Regions from separate parts of the Homo sapiens genome. Here region 2 is linked to region 1. Evidence: fine-mapped expression QTL. A gene starts in region 1. The other region holds a variant in brackets. All regions are shown on one strand. Distances are between the middles of the regions.

Region 1 (2,912 bases):
TGGTGCAGAGAGACACCTAAGCCAATAATGAGAGGCAGTACTGTACTGTAAAACACACAGGTGCTGCAAGAGCACAGAGTGCAGAGGAGGGAGCCAGCAACCCCAGGAAAGGAAAGCCCTGAAAGAGGCTGATGCGCAAGCTGGCCCCACAGATGTGCAGGAGCTCAGCTAATGGATAAGGAGGCAAGAGCCTTCCTGGGAGGGCTGGTAGCAGATGGGGACATTTGCAGGGGTCTGAGCTTTGGAAGAGAGTCCCCACTGAAATCTGGAGCTCTTGGGGAGGTCTGGCAGGGAAGGTGTTTTGGGACATTAAGCAGAGCCCAGGGAAGGGGCTGAGGCAGCCAAGAAAGAGGCTACTTACCCCATGGGATCATCAGCAGGACCATGAAACCTGGAGCAACACAAGAGAGAAGGCCAGGGTTATGCTGCCATTCTCACCTTCCCAGGCCCCACAGCTTACGGAAGCACAGGAGGTGGTCAGGGAGGGCTGATTTCATACAAATCAAGCTTTCTCCTTTCAGAAGGGACCCAGGAGGGCACTGTGCCCATCCCTTCATGCAGACCAGACCACGGGGGTCTCTTCCTGGCCTGGGTTGGTCCTAGAAGCTGATGGAAAGTTCCATGGGCTGAGGCTGCCCCCTCTCTATACCTCAGTAAAGGGCAGTGTGGATTCAGGAAGATTGTGGAAAAACTGCTGACTTGTGAGTTATTTAGAGAGATAGTTTCTCTTTCGGAACAAGAAACAAGCCTGTTTTGGGGCTAGAAAGAATCAATCTGGAAGGGCTGCATGGAGAGAGTTCATCTCCTGGGGAGGGCCTGTGCCTCTGCTCCCATCGTTTATGGCTTCCTGTTGCCTTTCCGCTACCTGGCTGTGGTAGGCAACCACAGCCTTGGAGACCTAGGGTCTGACAGGACTCCTTCGAAGAGATCTCTTTCACCTGGTGACCTTGGACTTCTCTGTCAACCTAATAGAACCTCCATGAAAATTTGCAAGGATGCCCAGGATCTTGGCCCCAGGCTGCCCTCTTGCAGGACAGACAATATGAGGTTGGAGAAGAGGTTCTTGGCAGTGGGCGCTTCTTGGATAAGGCCAACAGGAGGGACCTAAGAACATGGGAAAGACACAAAGACCCAGTGCAGGGGCCTCATTGACTCTGGGCTTTCAGGACAGAGAGAGGAAAGTCAAGTCATCTTCAGCCTGTTGAGAAAAGCCTTCCCTTGCAACATGAAGTCTCTTGGGCTGAAAGAGCCTAAGGGGGAGCCCACAGGAAAGGTAATCAAGGGACTGCAAGCCAGGAGGCATGGAGAGGGATAAAATGACCCTCTGAAGTTCTCCTGAGTCCTCCTGCTTCCTTGCAAATGGTAGCAAGTGGTCCCTGAACATCCACATCCCCACCTCCCCACAGCTCCCGAGACCCAGCCCACTATCCGACGGCTCACCTGCCCAGGCCACAGACCGCACCATGATGCAGCTCAGCGGCAGGCTGCAGCCCATACAAACCAGCTTTCCAGGTCCTGCTCTGCTTTTATCTGGCCACCCTGTCCCACCCCAGCCAGGAGTGTTGCAATCAGGGGCACTGGGTGGGGGGGATGGGAGCAGGGTGGGGAGGGGTAAGATGTCAAGCAGCATGAATTGGGCAAACTTGACACAATGGCCTTTAGCAATTCTTGCTTTTCTGGAACAATCAGAGGGTGACTCTTAGTGTTGCCAAACAGAGGAAAGCGGGAAGTGGCCCTGAACCTCCTGATGGATGAGCATGACCCTGACTTTCTTTGTGTAGTTGGTGAGGACCATAAGCAGCCCCAGACTTAATAGGGCTTTGGAGGAAGAGAAATGACTCACGAGTCAGGCAGCTGGGTTCCAGACCAGCTCTCTTGCTTCTCCACTGCCCTCTCTCAAACTGTTTCTCCATCTAGAAGATAATGGGGTTGCAAATATAATTTACTTTTCATGATAGTAATAGTTGCATATCCATTGATGGAGAAAAATAGATAATGATAAATAGTGACTATAAGTTTGGTAATGGCTTGAAATGCCTATGTTTCTTATGAAGAATAATAATGGTGGACATTTGGGCCAGGCATGGTGGCTTACACATGTAATTCCAGCACTTTGAGAGGCCGAGGCAGGTAGATCACCTGAGATCAGGAGTTCGAGACCAGCCTAACCAACATGGAGAAACCCCATCTTTACTAAAAATACAAAATTAGCCTGGCATGGTGGCACATGCCTGTAATCCCAGTTACTCGGGAGGCTGAGGCAGGAGAATTGCTTGAACCCAGGAGGCGGAGGTTGTGGTGAGCCGAGATCGCGCCACTGCACTCCAGCCTGGGCAACAAGAGTGAAACTCCATCAAAAAAAAAAAAACAAAAAAAAAAAAACAGAAGAATGGTGGACATTTGTGTCGGTTTCCCAGAGCTTCTGTAACAAATGGCCACCAAACAGGTGATTTGAAACAACAGAAGTTTATTCTTTCACAGTTCTGGAGGTCAGAAGCCTGGAAACAAGGAGTTGGCAGGGCCATGCTTCCTCCGAAGGCTCCAGGGGCGAATACTTCCCAGCAGCTTCCAGCTTCGGATGGCCTGTGGCATTCCTGGGCATGCAACGGCATCGTTCCAGCCTCTGCCTGCCTCCATTTTTACACGCCCTTCCTCGCTGTGTCTCTGTATGTCCCCTCCTTTCTGTCTCTGAGAAGGACATTCTAATCCAAGATGATCTCATCTTGAGATCTTTACCTTCATTACATTTGCAAAGACCCCTATTACAAATACAGTCACCTTCTGAGATTCCAGGTGAAGTTATCCTTTGCGGGGGGTGGGAGGGGGTCACCATTCAATTCACCACAGGACCCAAGTGGGCACATATTACTGTAATGTCTGCAGACAATGTCTGGTGTATGCATGAACTCCAG
Region 2 (2,912 bases), 21 kb before region 1:
TAATTGAGCAATGAACGATTCACAAATTGGGCAGCCCCTAGAATCACAGCAGATTCAGAGTCTCCAGGGGTGCCTCGTGGTCAGAACAAATTTACAGACAAAAAAGAAAAAGTGAAGTACAGGAATTGGAAGGGAAGCACAGAAACCGGGAGATTGGTTACAACTTGGCGTTTGCCTTATTTGAATGTAGTTTGAACATTCAGCAGCATATCAGTAATTGAAGTATGGCTGCTGGGATTGGCCAACACTCAGCTATTGTTACAGGTGCACACTACTAAGTTAGGTTTTCAATTTTGTCTGACTATTAAGCTAGGTTACAGTTCATCCACAAGGACCCAAATATGGAAGTATGGAGTCCTTCTCAGGCCGTAGTTAGTTTGCTTTAACACAATGTAGGGAAAGGCTGTACCTGTGGGAGGGGACATGGAGCCAGGGGAGAAGAAAGAAGGAGGGAAGAATGGAGGGAGCAGGTTTATTGAGCCTGGATCCTCTGGAGATCCCTGGGGGAATCTGTGGATTCCTTCAGTGAGAGAAGTGAGGGCAGTGCCTCAAGATGAACAACCTCCCCAGAAGGTTCTTAATTATTCGTGGCACTTTCAACAATCTGGTGTCACTCAGCGACTTCTGGGAAAACCACAGGTTTATGGCATCTGCTCTATCCCTCTCCAGGGACACTTAAGAGGGACAGATGGGAGGGAGAGAGCACTAGCCACTACCTTGATTTTATGTCAAATAAGGGCTCTTGCACAGGAAACAGAGATGCTGAGTTCTGAGTAAGACAAAAGCAAGCTCTAATGCCACTTCCTACCACCCTCAGTACCATTTGGGGAGAAAGAGGAGGATCTTGGCCTAAGAAGGGACAGAGAGTTTCAGCTTTCTACCTACTAGAGGGAAAATAGAAAATGCAATAGCCCTGTAGCCAACAAAGACACTAAATCAGTGGTTAAAAATTATCCTTAAAAAAAGCATCGAGCTGATGGCTTTACTGGTGACTGCTACCAAATGTTCAAGGAGCAGATAAGTCCTTTTAACACATCTATCAAAAAATAGAATGAGGGGACCTTCCCAGCTTGATATCCCAGAATCTTGATACCCCAGATCAGTTTATTATTGGCCTGGACAACAGCTGGAGGTGGTGAGGACTTCCTAGAGTGTAAGAAAGAAAACATGCAGGTCCATCTTACTCACTAACATATGTGTGAAAATGT[G/GA]AAAAAAAAAAACTAATCCAGCAAATTACAAAAAAAAATTAATATAGCATGACCAAGCTGGCTCAATCCTAGAAATGTAAGATGAATTTAACAGGGGAAAATGAATATGATTTATTACCAGAATAAAAGCAAAAATTTATAAATGGAAAACCATATGACAAAACTTACATCCATTCTCATAAAAACTCCTGGCAAATTAGGAGTAGAAGGACTTCTTTAGTCTTGTTAAAGGCATCTATGCAAAACCTACAATAAATGGCATATTTAACACTGAAATATTGAAAGCATCCTCTTTCAGGCCAAGAACAAGACAAAAATGTCCATTATCACTGCTTACACTCACCACTGTACTGGATGTCTTAGAGCAGTTTGCAAGACAAATAAACAAAAGTTATATGGTTTAGAATGGAAGAAACAAAACTTATTTCTGCAGATGATATGACATGACTACCTACATAGAATGCTGTGCAGAATTTGCAGAACAATAATCATCAAACTTAATCAGAGAGTTAGAAAAGTTGCTGGATACAACATCAACATACAAAAGTGGCATTACCATACACCAACAACAGTTGGTTAGAAAATTTAATTTTTACCATGGATAAAATTTATAACCGTAATCAAAAATTTAAAATACCTAGGAATAAATCTAATAAAAGATGTATGAGACCTTTAAGAAAAAATTTATAAAATTTTATCAAAATATATTTAAGAAGACAACTAGGGCCAGGCACAGTGGCTCACACTTGTAATCCCAGTACTTTGGGAAGCTGAGGCCAGGAGTTCGAGACCAGCCTGGGCAACATAGGGAGACCCTGCCTCTATTATAAATAGAAAACATTAAAAAAAGCAGTAGAAGACAACTAAACAGATATACCATGTTTTTAGATAAGGAGACTTAATATCATACAGATGCCAATTCTTCTCAATCTATAGATTCAGTGCAATTATAATCAAAACCTGGACAGAATTTTTAATGGAATTTGGCAATATAATTCTAACATATACATGGAAAAGTAAGAGCTAAGAACATCCAAGACATTTCTGAAACAAAGAACACAGTATAAAGATTTGCTGTAATAAATATCAGGATTTATTATAAGGCTTTAGTAATTAAGATAGTGAGTTATTGGGGCAGCAAAAGAAAAATACACCAATGGAACAGAAAGATTCCCATGTGTGTACAGAAACATAATTTGTTTCAGGGATGGTATTGTAGGTTAGTATGAAAGGGATAGATTATTCAATAAATAGTGCTTGAATAACCAGTTATCCGTATAGAAAAAAAATTAGATACAACCTTACAGCATATTTAAATGGCAATTTCAGTAAGACTAAAGGCTTAAGTGGGAAAAAAGCTACAAAACTTTTAGAAGATAATATAGGAAAATAGCTCTTGACTTCAGACTAGAGAAAAATTTCTCAAGATACAGAAAGTAAAAACCATAAAGAATAAGATTGGTAAATCTGACTACATTAAAGGCACCTAAGGAGAATGAAAAGCCAAGCCTCAACCCAGAAGATTTAGCCAAACCTGCAGTCATGAGTGGATTTGTGTTCGGAGCATGGAAAGAACGCCTACATTTCAGTAAGAAAGATATAAACAACCCAATAGAAAAATGACAAGAGACACATTGGACTATTCACAAAAGACAAACACATATTGCTTATAGGTATAGGAAAAGATGCTGAAACTATAATGAG

Evidence for each region. PIP is the estimated chance that this variant, and not a neighbour inherited with it, causes the effect.
Region 2: its variant is the best candidate, but not a certain one, in a credible set for the expression of CHIT1 in whole blood (INTERVAL, PIP 0.84).

Annotation. Positions count from the first base shown.
Region 1 is chr1:203,228,172-203,231,083 of GRCh38, forward strand. CHIT1 (chitinase 1) reads right to left here and starts at 1,502. Exons shown (of 11, transcript NM_003465.3): 1 at 1,441-1,502; 2 at 362-391. The coding sequence starts at 1,465.
Region 2 is chr1:203,207,278-203,210,189 of GRCh38, forward strand. No RefSeq gene overlaps it. Among named protein-coding and RNA genes, the nearest start is that of CHIT1, 21 kb to the right of the region's middle. The variant G/GA (reference allele first, on the strand shown) is at 1,209.